Regions from separate parts of the Homo sapiens genome. Here all the other regions are linked to region 1. Evidence: fine-mapped expression QTL. A gene starts in region 1. Each other region holds a variant in brackets. All regions are shown on one strand. Distances are from middle to middle.

Region 1 (8,178 bases):
ACCAAGATTGGCCAGGTACAGTGGTTCATGCCTGTAATCCCAGCACTTTGGGAGGCCGAGGTGGGCAGATCGCTTGAGTCCAGGAGTTTGAGACCAGCCTGGGCAACGTGGTGAAACCCCTTTCTCTACAAAAAAATTACAAAAATTATCCGAGTGTGGTGGTGCATGCCTGTAGTCCCAGCTACTCAGGAGGCTCAGGTGGAAGGATTGCTTGAGCCTGAGAGGTGGAGGTTGTAGTGAGCTGAGATCTTGCCACTGTACTCCAGCCTGGGTGACAGAGTGAGACCCTCTCTCAATAAAAAAGAAAAAAGTAAACGAAGATTTAGGTGCTAGATCTGCTCACCCAATTTTTGTTTTTTTGGGACGGAGTCTCGCTCTGTCCCCCAGGCTGGAGTGCAGTGGCGCGATCTCGGCTCACTGCAAGCTCCGCCTCCCGGGTTCACGCCATTCTCCTGCCTCAGCCTCCCGAGTAGCTGGGACTACAGGCGCCCGCCACCACGCCCGGCTAATTTTTTGTATTTTTAGTAGAGATGGGGTTTTACTGTGTTAGCCAGGATGGTCTCGAGCTCCTGACCTCATGATCCGCGCACCTCGGCCTCCCAAAGTGCTGGGATTACAGGCGTGAGCCACCATGCCCGGCCCTGCTCACCCAATATTTTTATCAATAGCTTGAATAAAGGCATAAGGAATGGTTATCATGTTTACAGATGACCCCATACTGGAAGGGGAAGCCAAATGTATGATAATAGAATCAGTTTTCAACATGACTTCAGTGGGATGACATCTGAGCCAGAACCACTAGATTTATTTATTTTATTATTAATTAATTAATTAATTTTTTTTTTTTTTGAGATGGAGTCTCGCTCTGTGGCCCAGGCTGGAGTGCAGTGGCGTGATCTCGGCTCACTGCAAGCTCCACCTCCCGGGTTCGCGCCATTCTCCTGCCTCAGCCTCCTGAGTAGCTGGGACTACAGGCACCCACCACTGTGCCCGGCTAATTTTTTTTTGTATTTTTATTAGAGACGGGGTTTCACCATGGTCTCGATCTCCTGACCTCGTGATCCGCCTGCCTCGGCCTCCTAAAGTGCTGGGATTACAGGCGTGAGCCACCGCGCCTGGCTGGTAAAACTCTTTATTGGACCAAAGTTGATATAAAAAAAATAGTTCTGGTTGTCAGCTGACATGAGTCAGCAGTATTCTGTGACTCAAGTTGCATTCATTCATTCATTCATCCAGTACTTACTGAAGTCCTGCTTACCATGTGCCAAGCACTATTCTAGAGGCTTGAGATACATTACTTAACAAACCAAATAAGCAAAAATCTCTGCCCTCTCAGTCAGCATTCTGGGGGAGATGGGATGTCAGACAATAAAGAAAAACCATAACTAATATATCGTATGTTATTCAGTGATGAGTGCTCTGAAAAAATATCTCAAGGTATTTTTAAGGAGATAAGGGGCATATTAGGAGGAAGTTCAGATTCTTCAAGGTGATAAATGAGCAAAAGGAAGCAAGGGACTCAGTCCTGTGGTTATCTAGGGGGAGAGTGTGCCAGGTGAGGGAGCAGCCAGGTCAAAGGCCCTGCTGGTTCGGGCTACTATATATGTACCTGGTGTGGATGAGTGAGGGGAAAAGTAGTAGAGGATGCAGTGGTACTGGTGGTGAGGATGACATGGAGGGCTTTGCAGACCACTCCAAGTAAGGTCATTGTGAATGAGATGGGGGAACCCTTGGAGGGTTTTGAGCAGAGGAAAGCCCTGATCTGGCTTGTGTTGTGTGTTGTTTTGTTTAAGATGGAGTCTTGCTCTGTAGCCCAGGCTGGAGTGCAGTAGCACAATCTCAGCTCACTGCAACCTCCGCCTCCCAGGCCCCGGTTCAAGCAATTCTCCTGCCTCAGCCTCCCGAGTAGCTGGGATTACAGGCACACACCACCATGCCCAGCTAATTTTTGTGTTCTTAGTAGAGATGGGGATTCACCATGTTGGCCAGGCTGGTCTTGAACTCCTGACCTCAAGTGATCTGCCCGCCTCGGCCCACCAAAGTGCTGGGATTACAGGCGTGAGCCACCACCCCTGTCCTGGCTTGTGTTTTAAAGACTCACTCCAGCTGCTGTGTTGAGAATAGATTGTAGGGGAACCAAGGAGGAAACGGGGAGAACAGTTAGGAGGCCCTTGCAGTAACCAGGAGAAAGAGGGTGGTGCCTGGGCCCTAGGGAGCTGGGAAGTGGTCAGATTATAGATTTTCTAATGGACTGGATGTGAGGAGTGAGATAATGAGAGGAGCTGAGGGTTTTGGCCTGAGCAATTTAAAGATGGAATTGCCATTAAATGAAATGGGGAAGGCTGTAGGTGGAGCACATTTTTGAGAAGGGGGAGAGATCAGGAGCTTAGTTTGGGACATGTTGGGCTCGAGATGGTTTTCAGACAGCCAAGTAGAAATATTGAGGCCGGGTCAGGTGTGGTGGCTCACGCCTGAAATCCCAGCACTTTGGGAGGCCAAGGCAGGTGGATCACGAGGTCAGGAGTTCAAGACCAGCCTGGCCAACATTGTGAAACCCTGTCTCTATTAAAAATACAAAAAATTAGCGGGGTGTGGTGGCATAAACCTGTAATCTCAGCTACTCGGGAGGCTGAGGCAGGAGAATCACTTGAACCCAGAAGGCAGAGGTTGCAGTGAGTGGAGATTGCACCATTGCACTCCAGCCTGGGCAAAAGAGCAAGACTCTGTCTCAAAAAAAAAAAAGTTGAGGCCTTTTGGAGTTAAGGGCTGAGCAGGGCTGGACTAGGCGGCAGATAGGGGTTTGGGTATCACTGGCTGTAGGTGGATTGAACCCATTTAGAGTAAGCATCCAAACCTGGGCAATAGTAGCACTGTGGGTGCTTGGTGCTGTCCATATCCCATGTGGAATTCTGTGTCCAGTTCTGGGAGCCCCTTTAAAAGGGATGCTGCTAGCCTGCACCATGTCCACAGAAGGTGATGGAGGTACAGAAATCATGCAGCATGAGGAAACTTAGCTGTAAGAAAGGAGACCTGGGACCATGTGGGTGCTGTGCCCACCCTCTTGACAGCATCCCTGTTGTGGGAGCAGATGTGGCAGACCCTGAAAGTCGGGAGGAGAGGAAAAGAGGTGCTCTGAGGAGGCTGATTTTGGCTGGGGGTGAAGAGGAGCTTTCCTGCAATTGCAGCAAATTTATGGAGCGATGGTCTCTACTGCCATGGAAATAACTAGCAGAGGCTTTCACTCTTTTGGACTCTTAACTACAGGAGGAACTACTACATTTTTCTGTAATCCTGTGCACACTTAGGAAAAGTTGAAGTAGCTTTCCCAAAATTACTTATCCTTTGAGATTATTGCTTAGATAGTTTCTATGTTTTGTTTGTTTCTTAATGCTGTTGGGATCCACTAAATTGATTTCAGAATCTGCTAATGGTCCAGGCTGCAGTTGGAAACCCCTGGTCTCAGCAGAGCTGAACTCCACCCGTGGAGATGTTAGGAGCCAGGAGGATTAGGGGTGGGTGCCTCTGGGCTTCCACTCCAGTCTTAGGGGTTCCCTTCCCCTGCCGGGTCACGTGCAGGTTGTGAAGGTTTTACCTCCTCAGCAGTACATTAAATCCTATTATCCCACTTAAGCTAATCTTGCCCTTCCCCCACCCGAGGGCTTCGCGTGGACAGAATATTAAGCGGACAAGCCCGCAGGGTGCCTAGACTAAGTGCTGAGCTTGTAGTGAATGCCCAGCCATGACTTGCAGTGGATTGACCTGTGCAAAAATTGGACTCTCAAGCTGCTAGCCCCAGTGTCAGCACGAGCTCGGCCGAGTTCATTTGGTCGCAGGAACAAGGGGGTCGCCAGGAGCAAGAGCGGAGGGGGCGCCTAAAGGGAGGAGACCAAGGCCTAATCACCATCCGCCCCCTAACTCCCTAGGCGCATAGCGGGGACGCAGCGTGTCCCCAAACCAACGCCACTAGCAGAGGGTCCCAGAGGAGCCGGAAGGGGCCAGGGCCTGGGCGGCGGTGGGAGGGTCTGAGCAGTGGGGGCGGGGAGCTGGGGGTCGGCTTTCGTCCGCGTCCCAGCGCTCCGGCGGCCGCCGGGGCTACTGATCCCGGGCTTGGCCCCTGCGGCAGCGCCCCGAGCTGCCGCCCCTCGCGCTGCCAGCGCCCGGGAAGGAGGAAGGGGGAAGGGGGCGGGCCGGCCGGGCTCACGGCCGACTTCCTCCTTCAGCCCCGCCCTCCGCCGCTTGCGGGTGAGCTCTGCCCAAGCCGAGGCTGCGGGGCCGGCGCCGGCGGGAGGACTGCGGTGCCCCGCGGAGGGGCTGAGTTTGCCAGGGCCCACTTGACCCTGTTTCCCACCTCCCGCCCCCCAGGTCCGGAGGCGGGGGCCCCCGGGGCGACTCGGGGGCGGACCGCGGGGCGGAGCTGCCGCCCGTGAGTCCGGCCGAGCCACCTGAGCCCGAGCCGCGGGACACCGTCGCTCCTGCTCTCCGAATGCTGCGCACCGCGATGGGCCTGAGGAGCTGGCTCGCCGCCCCATGGGGCGCGCTGCCGCCTCGGCCACCGCTGCTGCTGCTCCTGCTGCTGCTGCTCCTGCTGCAGCCGCCGCCTCCGACCTGGGCGCTCAGCCCCCGGATCAGCCTGCCTCTGGGTGAGTGCCGGGGACCCGGGGACGCGGGCCGGGGGAAGGAAGGCTGCCGGGGACGTGCCTCGTGCGGAGGTGGCCGTGACAAAGGACCAAGGAGGGGACCTGTCGGAGGCACGGGATCCATTAGGACCCCTTCTTTTTTCAAGGCGCTGCGCGGAGGGAGGGAGAGGAGAGGGGAGCTGTGGGGCCGCTGGCCCCTTTCTTCAGTTTTCTTTCTGCGTAGGGATGGGGTCTAGCCCGCTCTGTCGTCCCCCCTAGTTCCCTTAGGAGGATGCACTTTCGGCGGGGTCCGCCTGCCCATCTACTTGTCTTTGATGCTGACCAGAGCCGACCGCGGTGCCGCCCCCGAGGGCGGCTCGGGGTAGAGGGAGGCCACTGCTTGCAGTCCTATAAACACTGGGGTTCTGGTATTCCCAGCAAGTCGCAGCAGGGCCGGGAGCTGTGGTGGGCGGGCAGGCGCCCGATCCTCCCTCTCCGCCCCTCCATCCCTGGCTTGCCAGTGCAGCCCCAAGCCCCAGCATGGAGAGACCTCCAGGCCCTGGGAGCGACCAGACTGCGGATGGGGGCAGCTCTGGGCGCTGACATTCCCAAGTCCTGGGAGCGAACAGACTGCGGATGGGGGCAGCTCTGGGCGCTGACATTCCCAAGTCCTGGGCGCGACCCCTCCTCAGAGTGACCTGGGAGTAGCATCCTGGTTGGCTGGGTTCCTTTCCTGGTCCTCACATCTGCTTCTGTGGCCACCTCCTGTTTCAGCCCTCCGCCCTTCCCTCTCCTTTTCCCTTCCATCCGGTTGCTTCTCCAGCTCTTCTTGGGGCACTTGGGCTTTAGATTCAGAGGGTCCTGGATCCCAAGCCCATTTCTTCCACTGGGCAAGTAAGTGCCTTCTGCTCCCAGTGCCCCACCTTTCTCATCTGCAAAATAGGCAGTCGTAGGTGCCTTGCAAGGTGTGTTACTCGGGTATGAAGTTTATAAGTGCCCAACAGATGTATCCGCAAGCCCTTTAACTTGTTGGTTGTCATATTGTATGACTTGGAATAAAGCATGTATGAATTAGAGGTTACAGACTGAAACTGTCCCAGACTTCCATCTCCTCACAGCATCCCCACCTCTAAAAGCATCCTGTTTACAAAGGGAAATAGTAGAATCAGCACTTAAATTAAGGCAGGGCCCTAGCGGCTTCAAGTAACCCTACCTGAACCCCTGTCTGAAATACTGCAGATGACCTGGGTTCAAATGCTACCTCAGCCACTTAGTAACCATGTGACCTTGAGCAGGCTACTTAAAGTTTCTGGGTCTTGATTTCTTCATCTGTAAAACAGGTATAATAACAGAACCTACCTCAAGGTAGTGAGGATTAAATCAGCTCGTGTTTGAAAAGTCGTTAGGACAGGGCCTGGTACGGGAACCGCTGAATGAGTGTTACTCAGCTCAGAGTTTACTTCTGTACATCTTGCCCAGATCTGGGGTGATTCTGCCTGGGGTTAGGACAGGGTTGGGGTGTTAGTTTGACTGTAGCCCCTTGGGTGCTTCAGCTTGTGAAGTCAGGATGAACAGGTGTAACCAGCCCCAGGCCTGCTGTCTTGCTACTTCTGTTGTGGCCACAACTCCCTTTGCCCTCAGACCCTCTCATTTTTGGGAGAAGGCAGGGTGAGATGGGGGCAGATGCTCCAATGGACTCCACTTATGGCCTTGGGAAAGCTGGGCCAGCTCATGGGACCATGTCAAAAGACGGTAGGTTTCATGTCCAACTCTGGAACTGGATGGGACAATCACAGGGTAGCTAGAAGGCAAAACTGGAGAGCAGCGAGGGGAATCGAGGGGACCTGCTTCCCGAGGAGCAGCTAGAATACTTGGTTATTATTACCAATGCAGCTGCAGGACCTGGTCCACTTCTACAAGCCCGTGACTGTTCCCAGGCTTCTGTCACGCACCAGCATTCACCTGTCAGGGCTGCCGTAGGTGGGCTTGCATTTTGTGCATTGTACCAAGGTGCCCAGCTGAGGGTTGAGAGGACCTGAAATGCAGTCCACACTCAGCTCTCCAACCTAAGAGTCCTGGAGCAAAAGACCCCTTCTGCTATGTTCTTGGGGCTAGGTCTGCCCGGAGTGGCCCATTTTTCCAGTCCCACCAAAGCCCTGGAATAGTGTAGTGGCACCTAGCTACCTGAACTTGTGAGCACGTATCTATAGTCGACTGAGTTGCCACTATACCCTGGAGTGCCCCCTCTCTGGGCTTCCTCCTGGCCCTCATACCCACCTCCTACTCTTACCTACGTGCAGGTCCTAGGGCTGGCTGGGAGTCCGAGAGGGGAATGCCCTGGTAACTGAACAGGCTCACCCTTGAGTGTGGCCTAAGGCGGTTTCCTGCCTCATCCCAGGGGGCTCATTAGATGTTCCTGGCAGTGTGCCCATCCTGGGCAGGCTCGTGGTGACCATGGGACGCCGGGCCCAGGGCCCTAGTGCCCTCCCTTGCATGCATCTTAGGAGAAAGAGTCATGGAACTGGATATTACACACCCCTCTTTCCTCCTGCCACTCACTCCTCTACTGAATTCCCACCCATGCCCCGTAAGGACCCAGATGCCTAGGGACAGTGGGGCTATGTCTGTGGTTTAAAACAAAATCCCTTGAAGTGGAGCGTCCAGCTTGCCCTGCATCTGGGGTCCTTCATAGGGAACCCTAATTATTGTTGATGAACAGCACATTCCTGGGGTGCTTAAGATGCAGGGAGCCGATTTGTGGCCTCGCCCAGTGGCCAGTAGGGAGAGGAGGATGAGGGGACAGCCACTGGGGGCTCCACAGTCAGCTGGAAATCTCTGAAAGGAACACTTCAAAGAAGTGTGTGGAATTTGGGTTCTCTTGCGTTGGAACTACCATGCAGAGCTCCAGGACCAAAGCCTCGGTCAGGAGCAGGAGTGGTGCTGAGTAGAAACAATGGCGCCCAGTGCTTCCCAGCCTGGCCACGTGGGGAGAAACAAAACACGCCTCCTCTCATGGCCCTCCAAAGTCTTTTTGGGCCACCTTATTTGGACACTTAATGGGAGTTATTATTATTGTTATTTTGAGATGGAGTTTCGCTCTGTCTCCCAGGCTGGAGTACAGTGATGCCATCTCCGCTCACTGCAGCCTCCACCTCCCAAGTTCAAGTGATTCTCCTGCCTCAGCCTCTCGAGCAGCTGAGACTACAGGTGCCCGCCACCATGCTTAGCTAATTTTTGTATTTTTGTAGAGATGGGATTTCACCATGTTGTCCAGGCTGGTCTCGAACTTCTGACCTTAGGTGATCTGCCCATCTTGGCCTCCCAAAGTGCTGGGATTACAGGCATGAGCCACCACATCCGGCCTTAAAGGGAGTTATTAATTCCCTCCTGCCCCAGAAGTGCCGGGCGGGAAAGCTCTGGACGCAGTATTTCTGAAGCAGATTGGACAGAAATCTGCAGGCCTGCAAACTGCAGTCAACAAAACGCCATTGAGCAGAGAGAATGGAGCATTTGGCACAAATCAGCTGCTTGCCCTCTGGCCCTGGAGGAGGCAGCCAGGGTC
Region 2 (8,178 bases), 34 kb before region 1:
GCCTCTACAGAGTACATAGCACATAGTACTTAACAGCCGGTTTCACATATATTCAACTGCAGATGAGGTTCAGAGAGGTGAAGGGACTTGCCCACATAGGAAAATGGCAAAGGGAATTCTAGAACTCAGCTGGTCTGACTCTAAGCACAGTGTTCCTCCCCCCATGACCATATGCATGTAAATTCCCTTCCAGTTGCATGGAAGATGGAGTTCTTCACGGCTAAATTGTTAAAACCAAAATGCCATCTTTAGATGCCTTTATTAGGCTCATTACAAGCTTATCTGGGCCGGGCGCAGTGGCTCACGCCTATAATCCCAGCACTTTGGGAGGCCGAGGCAGGTGGATCACCTGAGGTCAGGAGTTCAAGACAACCCTGGCCAACATGGTGAAACCCCATCTCTACTAAAAATACAAAACTTAGCCAGGTGTGGTAGCACATGCCTGTAATCCCAGTTACTCGGGAGGCTGAGGCAGGAGAATCACTTGAACCCAGGAGGTGGAGGCTGCAGTGAGCCAAGATCACGTCATTGCACTCCAGCCTGGGTGACAGAGTAAGACTCCATCTCAATTTAAAAAAAAAAAAAAAAAGCTTATCGGCCGGGAGGCCAGCCATGTTGGCTCATGTTTGTAATCTCAGCACTTTGAGAGGCCAAAGTGGGAGGATGGCTTGAGCCCAGGAGTTTGAACCAGCCTAGGCAACATGGCAAAACCCCATCTCTACCAAAAATACAAAAATTAGCCAGGCATGGTGGCACACACCTGTGATCCCAGCTACTCAGGAGGCTGAGGCAGGAGAATCTCTTGAACCTGGGAGGTGAAGGTTGCAGTGAGCCGAGATCATGCCATTGCACTTCAGCCTGGGCAACAGAGCAAGACTCTGTCTCAAAAAAAAAAACAAACAAAGATCAGCAGTATGGTGGTATGTCGCTGTAGTCCCAGCTACTCGGGAGGCTGAGGTGGGAGGATGATTTGAGCCTGGGAAGTTGAGGCTGCAGTGAGCCAAAATAACATCACTGCACTCCAGCCTGGGCAACAGAGACAGACCCTGTCTCAAAAAAAAAGAAAAAGAAAAGAAAGCTTTTTAAGTCCTTGCCATGGCCTTCTGTTAGATCTGCAGCAGGAGAGGGAGGAGACGAGAGGCACCCTTGTGATGGAATATGGGGCAGCTCCTCCAAATGAGGGCAGAAATCTATACTTATTGGTAACTTTGCAAATATGTGTCTCCGTTGTATGCAGACACACATACAGAAAGTCTGGAAGGATGTGCTCCAGAATGCTAATAGCAGCATCTCTGGGAATCACCTTATGGGTGATTTCACTCCCTTCTATATACTTGTCTGAAGTTTTATTTTATAATGGGCAAGTATTTCCTTTATAATCAGGCTTTTTTTTTTTTTTTTTTTTTTGAGATGGAGTTTTACTCTCGTTGCCCAGGCTAGAGTGCAATGGCGTGATCTCAGGTCACTGCAACCTCTGCCTCCTGGGTGCAAGTGATTCTCCTGCCTCAGCCTCCCGAGTAGCTGCGATTACAGGTGTGCACCACCAAGCCCAGCTAATTTTTTTGTATTTTTGGTGGAAATGGGGTTTCACCATGTTGATCAGGCTAGTCTTGAACTCGTGACCTCAGGTAATCCACCTGCCTCACCCTCCCAAAATGCTTGGATTACAGGCATAAGCCGCTGCACCCAGCCAATAAAGCCATTTTCATTCTGAAAAAGAATTGAAAAAAGCTACTGAATAGGCCAAGCATGGTGACATGGGCCTGTAGTCCCAGCAACACAGGAGGCTGTGGCAGGAGGATCACTTGAGGCCAGGGACTGGAGGCTGCAGTAAGCCATGATTATGTATGTGAATAGCCACCACACTCCAGCCTGGGCAACACAGTGAGACCCTATCTTATGAAATAGGAAGGAAGGAAGACCACTGAATAGAAATAAAAGAATGGGAAGAAGTCCTGATACATGTGTCTCATGTTTTCAGTCAGATCCCTCTAGGGATGCAGGTGGAATCTGTGTCACCCATGAATGGACCCTTTACTTGGGGGGCATTCAAAATATGAAGGTAATGAGGACTAAGTAGACATCTTCCAATGAATGACACAGAAATTATAAACCTCTTGGCAGTCTCTTTGAACAACTCTCATCTTTCTCAGGATCTTAATGATTCATGTCACAGGCCCTTCCCAAAGATTGTGTGGTGGCTCTGGAGGAAAACCGAGAAGTGATATTACTCGTTTCTGGATAATTGTCAGTGAGTCAGACCTCGTTCAGCGCTCTGGAGTTTCCAGGCCGTTAACTTCTCTGCCTGAACTCATGAGTCAGGGTCAGTCAGCCCAGAGCTGCAATGTGTACGTGCTTCCCGGCCCTGCTCTTCTGGCCCGCCCCCAAGCCTTCACGCATGCACCCCTGCAGGCACTTACCAGCCTCCTCATCCGTATATCCTGGAAAGGGTGCAAGCATGCCTGGCTTAGTCATCCATCCACAGGAAGTTTGCACAGCCCTACCTGAGTGCTAAGATCAGGCTGTAAACTGCCAGAATGAAACAAAAGAGGGAAAATAAATATCAGCACTCTCCCATAAATTTTGCAATAGTCAGCTGTAGTCTAGCTGTGATTTAGAGCATTTGTTTTGTGAATAACCGGATGTGAATAATCTATATGTGAATAACCTATACGTCTGTCAATAGTGATCCATTATGATACATTGTGGTGGTGGGCACCTTGTAATCAGCTACTCAGGAGGTTGAGGTGGAAGGATCACTTGAGTCCAGAAGTTCTGGGCTGTAGTGCTCTATGCTTATAGTGTGTCCACACTAAGTTGGGCATCAATATGGCGACCTACTGGGAGCTGGGGGACCACCAGGTTGTCTAAGGAGAGATGAACCAGCCCAAGTCCGAAACAGAGCAGGTCAGAACTCTGGTGCTGATCAGTAGCAGGATGGTTCTGTGAATAGCCACTGCACTCCAGACTGCGCAACTTAGCAAGACTCTGTCTCTAAAAAAATGTGTGTGTTTGTATAAAATACATTGTAGTGTATCCAGAGAACAGATTACCATGCAGCTATTTAAAAGAACGAGGTAGAGCTATGTAAGTTGACATAGAAAGGGTCAGTTTGGCCGGGCACGGTGGCTCACACCTGTAATCCTAACACTTTGGGAGGCCGAGGCAGGAGGATCATTGAGCCCAGGGGTTCCAGGCTGCAGTGAGCTATGATCACACCACTGCACTCCAGCCTGAGTGACAGAGTGAGATCCAGTCCCTAAAAAAACCCAAAAACCAAAAACAAAAACGTAAGGTCAGTTTTAAGAATAAGAGGAACATTGGATAGCAGTGTATATATTATGCTCCTATTTGTGTGCATGTCAATTATTCTTATTTTTTAAATTATTTTGCTCACTCTGTCACCCAGGCTGGAATACAGTGGCACAATCTCGGCTCACTGCAGCGTCGACCTCCCAGGCTCAGGTGATTCTCCCACCTCAGCCTACCAAGTAGCTGGGACTACAGGCTCATGCTACCACGCACAGCTAATTTTTGGGGTTTCACCATGTTGCCTAGGCTGTTCTCAAACTGCTGGGATCAAGAGATCCTCCCGCCTCAGCCTCCCAAAGTGCTGGGGTTACAGGTATGAGCCACCATGACAGGCATCTTATTTTTATTTTTAAAAATTATAAATGGCATTTTCTCATTGTAAAAGGATAAAAATACAGAAAAGGCTAGCAGAAGACACGAAACTCTCTCATCACCCCTTGCATCAGTCAGGACAGGCTAGGCTATGCTGTGGTAACAAACATCTCTAAAAATGTCAATGGCTTAAAACAACAAAGATTTTTTTCTTGCCCATGCTTTATTCCTAACATGGACACAGAGATTCAGCTCATTGTAGTCCGCACCATAGTCACAGTGCCACCAACATATGATGCCACCATCCCAACGTGATACTTCACAGTTCACCATTATAGAGGAAGAAAGCATGAGAACCAACACAGGATCTCAAATGCCTCCCCTGGAAGGGATACTTGACACTTTTCCTCACATTTCACAAGCAAATCACAAGGATACACCTAACTTCAAGACAGTGTGAAAGTATAACCTTCCCCTGGACACAGGAAGAGAGCTGGAAATATTGATTCACCTTGGTAATGTCTACCACCCCATCCCAAACCACCCTCCTTCCCAGAGGGGAGTTAACATGTTGCTGCTGAATCCCTCCAGGCCTTTTTGATATATAGGCATACCTTGGAAATACTGCAGGTTCAGTTCCAGACCACTGCAGTAAAGCAAGTCACATGAATTTTTTTTGGTTTCCCAGTGCATATAAAAGTTATGTTCATACTATCCTGTAGTCTATTAAGTAAGCCATCATATTATCTCTAAAAAATATGCAGATACCACAGAAATTAGCCAGGCATAGTGGCGGGTGCCTATAATCCCAGCTACTTGGGAGGCTGGGGCAGGAGAATCGCTTGAACCCAGGAGGCGGAGGTTGCAGTCAGCCAAGATCATGCCATTGCACTCCAGCCTGGGTGATAGAGCCAGACTCTGTCTGAAAACAAAAAAAAGGATATATCTTTTTAATTTTTTTTTTTAATTTAAAAATTTTTTTGAGACAGGGTTCCACTCTGTCACCCAGATGGGAGTGCAGTGGCACAGTCATGGCTCACTGCAGCCTTGACCTCCTAGGCTCAAGCGATCCTCCTACCTCAGCCTCCCAAGTAGCTGGGACCACAGGCGTGCACCACCATACCTTGCTAACTTTTATATGTCTTGTAGAGACTGGGTTTGCCCATGT[T/A]GGCCAGGCTGGTCTCGAACTCCTGGGCTCAAGCAATCTGCCTGCCTGGGCACCACAATTGCTGGGATTATAAGTGCAAGCCACCACGCCCAGCCTGTTTTGCGTACTTCCTGTTTGTGTGTTCACTGTCATAGTGCCTTTAATTTTCCTTTGTCTTTTAAACTTGGCTAATTGGCTCAAGAAGACTAGTTTTTCAGCCTGTTTTGGCTTTCAACATGCCTTCCTCACTAAGCTTAATCCTTTGTACCTAGAGATGTGGAACTCTTGCTTTTGTGTGAACAGAGGACTTAGAGGCCATCATAGGGTTATTAATTGGCCTAATTGCAACATCTTTGTGTCTCAGGGAATAGGGAGGCTCCAGAAGAGGGAGACAGAAGGGAGGGAGAATGACCCGTTGGTGGCCGTTTGATGGAGCAGCCAGAACAAGCAAAACGTTTATCAATTGTGGCTGAGCACAGTGGCTCACACCTGTAATCCCAGCACTTTGGGAGGCCGAGGCGGGTGGATCACCTGAGGTCAGGAGTTCGAGACCCGCCTGGCCAATATGGTAAAACCCCATCTCTACTAATAACACAAAAATTACCCGGGCGTGGTGGCGCACTCCTGTAATCCAAGCTACTCCGGAGGCTGAGGCAGGAGAATCGCTTGAACCCCAGAGGCAGAGATTGCGGTGAGCCAAGATCACACCACTGAGCTCCAGCCTGAGCAAGTGAAACTCTGCCTCAAAAAGAAAAAAAAGAAAAAAAGTTTATCAATTAAGTTTGCCATCTTGTATGGGCCCGGTTCATGGTACCCCAAAACAATTAAATAGTAACATCAAAGATCACCAATCACAGATCACCATAACAGATATATTAATAATGAAAAAGTTTGAAACGTTGAAAGAATCAGCAAGATGTGACACAGACACTAAGTGAGCACATGCTGTTGGAGAAGCTGTGCTCATAGACTTGCTTGACCTTGCCACAAACCTTCAATTCATAAAAAAATGCAGTATCTACGAAACGTGATATCTTCAAAGAGCAATATAAACGAAGTTTGCCTGTATATAGTTTTGACATACATTAATAGTTTACAATAAATTTAAAATATATCTGGCTGGGCACAGTGGCTTATGCCTCTAATCCTAGCACTTCGGGAGGCCAAGGTGGGTGGATCACCTGAGGTCAGGAGTTTGAGACCAGCCTGGCCGATATGGTGAAACCCCATCTCTACTAAAAATACAAAAATTAGCCGGGCATGGTGGTGAGCACCTGTAATTCCAGCTATTCAGGAGGCTGAGGCATGAGAATCACTTAAACCTGGGAAATGGAGGTTGCACTGAGCCAAGATTTTGCCACTGCAGTCTAGCTTGGGCAACAGAGCAAGACTTAGTCTCATAAAAAATAAAATAAAATAAAAATATACCAGCCTAGGCAACATAGTGAGACCCCCAACTCTATTTAAAAAAAAAAAATAGAAAAATAGCTGGGTACAGTGGCTCATGCATGTAATCCCAGCACTTTGGGAGGCCGGGGCGGGTGGATCACCTGAGGTCAAGAGTTCGAGACCAGCCTAACTAACATGGTGAAACCCTGTCTCTACTAAAAATACAAAAATTAGCTGGGCATGGTGGCACATGCCTGTAATCCCAGCTGCATGGGAGGCTGAGGCAGGAGAATCACTTGAACCCGGGAGATGGAGGTTGCAGAGAGCTGAGATCATGCCATTGCACTCCAGCCTGGGCAATGAGAGCGAAACTCCGTCTCAAAAAATAAATTAATTAATTAAATAAAAATGCAAACATTAGCCGGGTGTGGTGGCATGCACCTGTAGTCCTCGCTACTTGGGAGGCTGAGGCACAAGAATCGCCTGAACTTGGGAGGTGGAGGTTGCAGTGAGTCGAGATCACACCACTGCACTCCAGCCTGGGTGACAGAGGAAGACTCTGTCTCAAAAAAAAAAAAAAAAAGAAGAAGAAGAAGAAGAAGAAGATATTAGCCAGGCATGGGTGCATGCCAGTAGTCCCAGCTACTAGGGAGACTGAGGTGGGAGGGTCCATTGACCACAGGCGGTCAAGGCTGCAGTGAGCCATGACCATGGCTGGGCGACATAGTAAAACCCTGTCGGCCGGGCGCGGTGGCTCACGCCTGTAATCCCAGCACTTTGGGAGGCCGAGGCAGGTGGATCACGAGGTCAGGAGATCGAGACCATCCTGGCTAACACGGTGAAACCCCGTCTCTACTAAAACTACAGCCGCTTACAGAAGTTGTAATAGTGATGTCTAACTTGGAAATGAAGAGTTTTTGAAAGTGACTGTTTAGAGGGCTGGAAGGAGGATATGCAAAAACACATGCAACAACAAAAAATCCATCCATCAGAGTTTTCTAGGTCAATATCTGGACCAGTTTCTCTCGTATCCCGTAGCCCTTGTTGTGATGTGGGGTAGGAGAAAGGGACGTGGACATCTTACTGGCCAGGTCTTATCTTTTTTTGTTTTGTTTTGTTTTCTTGAGACAGTCTTGCTCTGTCTCCAGGCTGGAGTGCAGTGGGCGTGATCTCGGCCTCCCGGGTTCAAGCAATTCTCCTGCATCAGCCTCCTGAGTAGCTGGGACTACAGGCATGTGCCACCACGCCCAGCTAATTTTTGTAGTTTTAGTAGAGACAGGGTTTCTTTCTTTTTTTTTTTTTTGAGACAGAGTCTCTCTCTGTCACTCAGGCTAGAGTGCAATGGCACGATCTCGGCTCACTGCAACCTCCACCTCCCAGGTTCAAGCGATTCTCCTGAGAGACAGGGTTTCACCATGTTGGCCAGGATGGTCTTGATCTCCTGACCTCGTGATCTGCCTGCCACAGCCTCCCAAAGTGCTGGGATTAAGGTGTGAGCCACTGCGCCTTAATGGCGTCTTAATGCCTGGGCACATGGAGGAGTGAGTCAGGTACAAAAAACAAAAACAAAACAAAAAAAACCCCTGCTCAACCCTGCTCTCTGTCCATGGACCAGTACCCCTTCATCCTATCTGGGCTCTCCTTCCTACACCCTCGGGTTTCCCAAGGCTGAGTGTTGTGTTGAAAAGAGCAGCTTTCCAGGTAAAGAAGGACTGGCCAGGACCGGTGCCTTATACCTGGAATCCCAGCACTGTGGGAGGCCAAGGCGGGAGGATAGCTTCAGGGCAAGAATTGGAGACTAACCTGGGCCACATGGAGAGACCCCTGTCTCTACAAAAAATAAAAAATTATACTTCTGGAATCTTCAGAAAGAAAAATAAATAAACAAAATAAATTATCCAGGCCTGGTGACACACACCTATAGTCCCAGCTACTCAGGAGACTGAGGTGGGAGGATCACTTGAGCCCAGGAAGTTGAGGCTGCAGTGAGCAATGAGCCATGATCACACCATGGTACT
Region 3 (8,178 bases), 51 kb after region 1:
GTTAGCCAGGATGGTCTTGATCTCGTGACCTGGTGATCCGCCCACCTTGGCCTCCCAAAGTGCTGGGATTACAGGCGTGAGCCATCACACCCGGCCAGATATTTGTTTTTTTAAATACGAGTTCTCACTCTGTCACCCAAGCTGAAGTGCAGTGGCATAATCATAGCTCACGGCATCCTCTTAACTCCCATGCTCAAGAGATCCTCACACCTCAGTCTTCCTAGTAGCTGGGACTACAGGGCCTGCCACCTAGCCTTGCTGATTCTATGAAAGATTTTGAGGAGATGAGGAAGGCTGGTATCTTTCAAAGTGCAAAGTGATTTTGGTATAAACAGTTTCTTTGGGTTGCATTACATAGAAGTTTATCACTAACCTATGTTCCTGAACTATGAAACATGAATATGTGGGCAAAGAAATAGCTTATCTTTATAGACAATTAACAACAACAAAAACAGTCTATGAATTAGAGAATGTCCATGCCTTTTTTAGGCCGAGTTCAGTGGTTCATGCCTGTAATCCCACCACTTTGGGAAGCCAAGGTGGGCAGGTCACTTGAGGTCAGGAGTTCAAGATCAGCCTGGCCAACACAGCAAAACCCCATCTCTACAAAAAATACAAAAATTAGCCAGGCATGGTGGTGCGCACCTGTAGCCCCAGCTACTTGGGACGCTGAAGTGGGAGGATTGCTTGAGCCTGGGAAGCTAAGTAAAGTTGCAGTGAGCTGCGATCACACCACTGCAATCCAGCCTGGGCTACAAAGCAAGACCCTGTCTCAAAAAAAAAAAAAAAAAAAAAAAAAAAAAAAAAAAAAAAAGTCCATGTCTTTTTAAAAGGATGGAAACATTTTAAGTGTTCTCTAGATTTAGCCACACAGTATAATTTTAGGGTGACAAGTTGAGCTGAGTTGGGTGGAGGTGGTGAGCAGAAATCAAAGTGGGTGGATGTCAGGAAGAGAAGGTGACAGTGAAGGAGCACTGTGATAAGGCGGTTTGGTTATTCCTTAATGGAGCTGTCTCAGTCCACCAGAGGCAAAGCCTTGAAAGGCACGTGGCCTTACCATGGCTGTCACTCTTGAATGCATAGGCTTTGCTAGCTAAACTTAGAGTTACTAAAGAATTGAGCCCGGCGTGGTGGCACGCTCCTGTAGTCACAGCTACTGGGGAGGCTGAGGCAGGAGGATTGCTTGAGCCCAGGAGGTCCAGGCTGCAGTGAGCTATGATGGTGCATTCCACTGCACTCCAGCCTGGGCGACACAGCAAGACCCCGTCTCAAAAAAAAAAAAAAAAAAAAAAAGGGAGAATTGAGGAGAGGCAAACAGCTATTTGTCCTCATTATATGCTTGGCCAAATTCCTTGGCCCGGGGTTTAGGGAAAGATGGGAGTGCGGCGAGAACTGGCTTCGAAGCGGGAGGGCTGCAAGTCCCATGATACACCGGAAGAATCTGGCGTCGAGGCCGGCCAGCTCCAAAGGGCAAACGCTGTCTCCCCCACCCAAGGTAGCCTCGGCCCGCGCCCAAGTGGGTGTGGCTGCGGGAAAGCCCCGCCCCCAGGACGCTTCTCCAATGGGAACTGCCCTCGTGTCCATGGCAACGGCGGCGGCCACGGGCTTGCTAGAGGAAGCGCTGCCCCGGCAGCCGCAGCCACGGCCACCGGGAGCTAGGAGTGAACCCCTGCGGGGGAGCAGCTTCCCCCTCGCGATCGTGGGGACAGCCAGTCCTGTGAAACGAGGAGGCGGTTCCGGACGCCCAGAAACGCCCAGGGAGACCTGGAGCCGGGGGAAGAGGGGACATGAGCGGCCAGCTGAGTCCATCCCCAGGCGGCTAGGGGCGGACCCAGCAGCCCCTCAGCTCTCCTCGTAACCACGGGTGGGCAGTCTCCACCGTCACAGCCCAAAGGGTCTTAGCCATCGGGTGCCTGTCCCTAGTGTGTACACGTGCAGAAAATGAGTCCTGGGAGAGGGAAAGGGCCAGCGTAGGGGGCTTTTGGTCTTCAGCTGTATTTTATTTTATTTATTTATTTATTTATTTATTTAGAGACAGACTCTTGCTCTGTCGCCCAGGCTGGAGTGCAGTGGTGTGATCTCGGCTCACTGCAACCTCCACCTCCCAGGTTCAAGTGATTCTCCTCCCTCAGCCTCCCGAGTAGCTGGGATTACAGGCAACGCACCAGCACACCCAGCTAATTTTTGTATTTTTAGGAGAGACGGGATTTCACCGTGCTAGCCAGGCTGCTCTCCAACTCCAGACCTCAAGTGATCTGCCCGCCTCAGCCTCCCAACGTGCTGGGCCGATTCAGCTGTATTTTAAAGCGAAGGTCCCCCCAGCACTCACAGCCATCCTCTTTCCCAATTAGGAACAAAAGAGCCATGGTCATGGCCCATACCATCTGTGTCCAACTCCTGAAGGCACCCCTGTGCGTTGTATGATCCAGTGTGAACCTGGATGATTGGGGCTTGTCATCAGGGAATCCACATCTCACTGGTGTCTTCCACCCCCATGCACCTCCACCTACCTGGACACATCCCATTCCTCAGTGAAACAGTTTTGTCCTGAAGGGGCAGCAACTTTCCCTTATAACAGCATGAAGGTCGTTCTGGTGGATTCCTTCAGGCCTTCTAGGGCCTGAGGGAGGTCTGAGGTCTGATATACACTTCATTCCCACCCCGCAACCCCTCAGAATCTGAGAGAATGGAGCCGAGTACCTGTAGGACCATGGAATCAGAGGAAGACTATGTTGAGGAAAAGGAATCTGAGAAGTGTGTTAAAGAGGGAGTTACCAACCCCTCTAACTCTTCACAGCAGGCTCTCTTAAAAGCTGACTATAAGGCATTAAAAAATGGGGTTCCCTCACCCATTATGGCCACAAAAATTCCGAAGAAAGTCATAGCCCCAGTTGACACAGGCGACTTAGAAGCTGGGAGGAGGAAGAGAAGGCGGAAACGCAGGTAACTATTCCCTAGATCCCCTCAACTGCCCAGCTCCAGGGAGTCACCCATTGGCCTCCCTTCAACATCTGGAGGAGCTGGGATCTCAGATCTTCCCTTTAGCCTACAAAAGAGGACAGGAAATGCTGGAGTGTCATTAACCCTTTGATACAACAGAAACAAAATTCAGAACCATTTAGGCTGGCTCATTTTGGAATCCCAGCCTGTTTATGTCATCCTGGTCTGTCTTTTTTTTTTTTTTTTTGAGACAGAGTCTCGCTCTGTCGCCCAGGCTGGAGTACAGTGGCGTGATCTCGGCTCACGGCAAGCTCCGCCTCCCGGGTTCAGGCCATTCTCCTGCCTCAGCCTCCCGAGTAGCTGGGACTACAGGCACCTGCCACCACGCATGGCAAATTTTTTTTTTTTTTTTTGTATTTTTAGTAGAGACAGGGTTTCATTGTGTTAGCCAGGATGGTCTCTATCTCCTGACCTTGTGATCCACCCGCCTCGGCCTCCCAAAGTGCTGGGATTACAGGCATGAGCCACCGCGCCCAGCCCATCCTGGTCTGTCTTTTAAGTGGCTTCTAGAGAAAAGGAATTGTGTTGTGAATTTGTTGGATGTCTTTTCATCTGAGTACCTGTCCTTCCCTCCCACTCTTCCTGATTTATGCTATTCCTCCATTCCAGATCACTGGCCATCAACCTGACCAACTGCAAGTATGAGAGTGGTAAGCACCCAGCCCGTCGCTCACACTGTGGTGCATAACATGGTGCCTACAGCTGCTGTTCTTCCTCTGGAATGGACCCCCGATCAGGCTTCCAGCCCCTGGGGCCTGGCGGGCTTGCCTCTAACCTGTACTGAGCTTCCTAGGTGTCCTCTGCCTCAGACACTGGAAGCTGAGACATTGCCATTCCAGGTAGTCTCAGTGTTAGGGAGGGTATCCTCACAGTAAACAAGAAAAAAAAAAAAAAAAGTCCAAGAGCCACTACTGCCCCACCCTTCCCAGATTTTATTTATTTATTTTTGAGACAGAGTCTC[G/A]CTTTGTCATCCAGGCTGGAGTGCAGTATTGCAATCATAGCTTAATGCAGCCTTGAACTCCCGAGCTCAAGCCGTCTTCCTATCTGAGCTTCCCAGTAGCTGGGACTACAGGCCTGCACCACTATGCTCACCTAATTCTTTTTTTTTTTTTGAGACCGAGTTTTGCTCTTGTTGCCCAGGCTGGAATGCAATGGCGTGATCTCGACTCACTGCAACCTCCACCACCCAGGTTCAAGCGATTCTCCTGCCTCAGCCTCCCAAATAGCTGGGATTACAGGCATGTGCCACCACATCTGGCTAATTTTGTACTTTTAGTAGACAGAGTTTCTCCATGTTGGCCAGGCTGGTCTTGAACTCCTGACCTCAGGTGATCCACCCACCTCAGCCTCCCAAAGTGCTGGGATTACAGGCATGAGCCACCATGCCCAGCCTGCCCAGCTAATTCTTAAATGTTTTGTAGAGACAGAGTCTTGCTATGTTGCCCAGGCTGGTCTTGAACTCCTGGGCTCAAGTGATCCTCCCACTTCAGCTTCTCAAAGGCCTAGGATAACAGGCAGGAGCCACCATGCCAGACCCTTCCCAGATTTTACCAGAGATGAGACAAGCTTAAAACAGTTTTTTCAAGGAAGATTTGAAGGGACTTCAACGATTAAGAAAAAAAACAATCTCCAGCTAGGTCCTTCCCCTAATATTCCCTCTGGCATCTTTATAAGGAACCACACAAGTATGGAGTGTGAAGTGCCAGTGTGACCCCACCTATAGGCAGCTCTCCAAGCCATAAACATCCCTGATTGAGAGATAAGACTGACAGGAGCAGCTGGGCACGGTGGCTCATGCCTGTAATCCCAACACTTTGGGAGGCCAAGGCAGGCGAATCTCCTGAGGTCAGGAGTTCGAGACCAGACTGGCCAACATGGTAAAACCCCGTCTCTACTAAAAATACAAAAATTACCCAGGTGTGGTGGTGGGCGCCTGTAGTCCCAGCTATTGGGGACGCTGAGGCACGAGAATCTCTTGAACCTGGGAGGCGGAGGTTGCAGTGAGCCAAGACCGTGCCACTGCACTCCAGCACAAGGGCGAAACTCCGTCTCTAAAAAACAAACAAACAAACAAACAAAAAACCAGGTTCTAGTTTTCTCTGCTAGGTATTTTGGAAGGGCCCTGACAGCCCCTAAGAACTTGAAATTGTCATGTGGTAACTAAAGTACAGGGCTGAGGCAAGAACTACCTCCCTCTTCAACCTGCCCTCGGGTCAGGTGTATACCTTACCTGACCCAGCTACACAGTTCCAGGGCTTGTTGCTGGTGTCCATGCTGGCACTACTGATCTCCCTGTCTCTGCAGTGCGTCGGGCAGCCCAAATGTGTGGCCTGAAGGAGGTGGGGGAGGATGAAGAGTGGACTCTGTACTGGACAGACTGCGCTGTCTCACTGGAACGAGTCATGGACATGAAGAGGTTTCAGGTACCCATCTCCTGACCTGAGAGCCGACAGGGGCTAGGGCCCCAGAATGACTATTCCCACCTCCTTGCCCAGGCACCCAAGACTGCTACTCTTTGTGGCTGTCCCCTTGTGCAGACAAGAAAGACCACCCCCAGGGTCTTCTTTTCCAATGGAAAGATCTCCTCTTGGAGATTGTGGGTTTCTGGAATTACCCAAAGGAAGTTTCTGGTGGGCACATCCTATCTCATGATTTGCACTTTGCTTGGTGGCATCTGTGTGTAGCTGGCCCTCTCCAGGGTGGGTGAGCACATCTTAGGGAGAATACTGGGAGGCAGCTTCAGAGCTAACAGCAGGGCCAGTTGAATGATCCAGCCTTCTAAGCAACTTAGTTTAGCATTCCACATCCATTAGGAGACTGCGGGGTCCTGCCTGGTGGCAAGAAATTCAGGAATGATCCACCGGGGTCCACAAGAATAGAACTGCCTTGTGACATTTTTATTATCCTCTAATTGGGCGTTTGTGGTGATCAGCAATAAAATAATTTAAAAGAGTCTGCAGGCTTATTCTTTGGGGAAGCCAGGCAGGAAGTTGAGGAAATTAAAACCTGTCCCACAACTAGTCTTGGGAGAGGTGCCCAAGAGAGAAAGCAAGTGCTAGAAGTTCTCAAGAAGCTCCAGAGGAGGTTGGGTGTGGTGGCTCACACCTGTAATCCCACCACTTTGGGAGGCCAAGGCAGGTGGATCAATTCAGGTCAGGAGTTCACTTGAACCCAGGAGGTGGAGGTTGCAGTGAGCAGAGATCATGCCACTACACTCCAGCCTGTGTGACAGAGTGAGACCCTGTTTTTTTTTTTTTTAAAAAAAAAAGGCTGGGCACAGTGGCTCACGCCTGTAATCCCAACTCTTTGGGAGGCCGAGGCGGGCGGATCATGAGGTCAGGAGTTCAAGACCAGCCTGACCAACAGGGTAAAACCCCATCTCTACTAAAAATACAAAAATTAACCAGGCATGGTGGCGCACACTTGTAATCCCAGCTATTTAGGAGGCTGAGGCAGGAGAATCACTTGAACCCAGGAGGCGGAGGTTGCAGTGAGCCAAGATTGTGTCATTGCACTCCAGCCTGGGTGACAGAGTGAGACTCCATCTAAAAAAAAAAAAAAAAAAAGGACGCTCCAAAGGAGGGGCATTTGTAAAATGAGGAATGCAGGCTGGGCACGGTGGACGGTGGCTCTCGTGCCTGAAATCCCTTTGGGAAGCCAAGGTGGGCAGATTGCTTGAACTCAGGACTTTGAGACCAGCCTGGGCAACAGGCAAAACCCCATCTCTACCAAAAATACAAAAATAAAAAAATATTAGCCAGGCGTAGTGGTGCATGCTTTAGTCCCAGCCACTTGGGAGGCTGAGGCAGGAGGATCTCTTGAGCCTGGGAGGCAGAGGCCGCAGTGAGCTGAGATCACACCACTGCACTCCAGCCTGGGCGACAGAGGGAGACCCTGTCTCAGGGAAGGGGGAAAAAAAAAGGATAAGGATAACAATAATCAGCAGCATTTACTGAGGGCTTACTGTACAACAGACTCCGTGTTAAGTGCTTTTATAGTATTACCCCATTAAATCCTCAAGAACAGCCCTGAGCAGCAGATATCCCTTGGTTAGGACATGGAGGGTCAGAAATACTAAGTTCATACAGTGAGTGCGGCCAGTGATGGGGAAACCCAGTGGAGAGCACTTAGCATACTCTTTGTGGCTGTCCCCCTGTGCAGACAGGAAAGACCATCCCCAGGGTATTCTTTTCCAACGGAAAGATTCTCCTCCTGGGTCTCTGGAATTACCTGAAGGAAGTGTCTGGTGGGTACATCCTATCTCATTATTTGTTCTTTACTTGGTGGCATCCCGGATGCTGCCACCCATCCAGCAGGACAGAGCAGCCAGGGGTTTCTGGCAGGCACCAGGGTGATGCCATGCCCTCAGTGGGTGCCATGGCATCACATTCCTTGGGGCTGGTTCTTAGTTTCCTTTTATCTTTTGTGTCTTTTGGGGAATGCTTTCGTCTCATTGTCTGCTTTGTGCTATCATGCATTAGTTATTGTTAGAGGACTAGGCCTGGTGGTCTGAGGGGTGTTAGAAGGTGGACTGTGGAAGCCACAGTCTTGGCTAGTTACATTCCTTCTCACTGCCCCTCATTTGCTGAGCTCAGTGTGGATGTGTGTGTTGGGTAGGAGTCACAGAGGGTTTTCTCACCTGCCTTAAGGAACCTTCCTATGTTTGCCCTTGGGGTCCTTGGTGCAGTGCTTACCTCCACTGTGACTTCTCCCTTAACCTTCCCAATCCTCCTCCACTGCTTCCTGGGATGCCCAGGTGCTAGGAAATGCCACTTACTCTGGGGGCTCATACTAACTGGCTGTGTTTCAGAAAATCAACCACTTCCCTGGCATGACAGAAATCTGCCGCAAAGATCTGCTGGCTCGGAACCTCAACCGCATGTACAAACTCTATCCCTCTGAGTACAACATCTTCCCCCGCACCTGGTGCCTCCCCGCAGAGTGAGTGGGTCTGGCTTCCCATGCTGAGATACCAGGGGGAGGAAAAGGGTCGCTCTCAGAGCTCTGGTCTTGTGACCTAGGAATGTCTCAGAGGGATGGAAGTGGAATGAGAAAGTTTCAGCTGGTCAAAGAAAAGAGGGTCTGAGACTGAGTGCTCCAGGAAGAGCATGGACTAGATAGCAGGAAGAGCTCCATGCGGCCCCGGGAAAGCCTTGATGCACAGAAACCTTTTGACCA

Evidence for each region. PIP is the estimated chance that this variant, and not a neighbour inherited with it, causes the effect.
Region 2: its variant is fine-mapped to the expression of SEMA4B in whole blood (INTERVAL, PIP above 0.99).
Region 3: its variant is fine-mapped to the expression of SEMA4B in whole blood (INTERVAL, PIP above 0.99).

The regions. Positions count from the first base shown.
Region 1 is chr15:90,197,096-90,205,273 of GRCh38, forward strand. It overlaps SEMA4B (semaphorin 4B), which reads left to right and starts at 4,235. Exons shown (of 14, transcript NM_198925.4): 1 at 4,235-4,640. The coding sequence starts at 4,484. RefSeq lists an enhancer at 3,783-4,754 and a silencer at 3,927-4,686.
Region 2 is chr15:90,163,531-90,171,708 of GRCh38, forward strand. It overlaps the pseudogene RN7SL346P. Among named protein-coding and RNA genes, the nearest start is that of SEMA4B, 34 kb to the right of the region's middle. RefSeq lists a silencer at 277-432. The variant T/A (reference allele first, on the strand shown) is at 4,793.
Region 3 is chr15:90,247,945-90,256,122 of GRCh38, forward strand. TTLL13 (tubulin tyrosine ligase like 13) reads left to right here and starts at 1,612. Exons shown (of 15, transcript NM_001396017.1): 1 at 1,612-1,864; 2 at 2,676-2,943; 3 at 3,610-3,650; 4 at 5,305-5,423; 5 at 7,811-7,941. The coding sequence starts at 2,687. It also overlaps a transcript of CIB1 not described here. The variant G/A (reference allele first, on the strand shown) is at 3,962.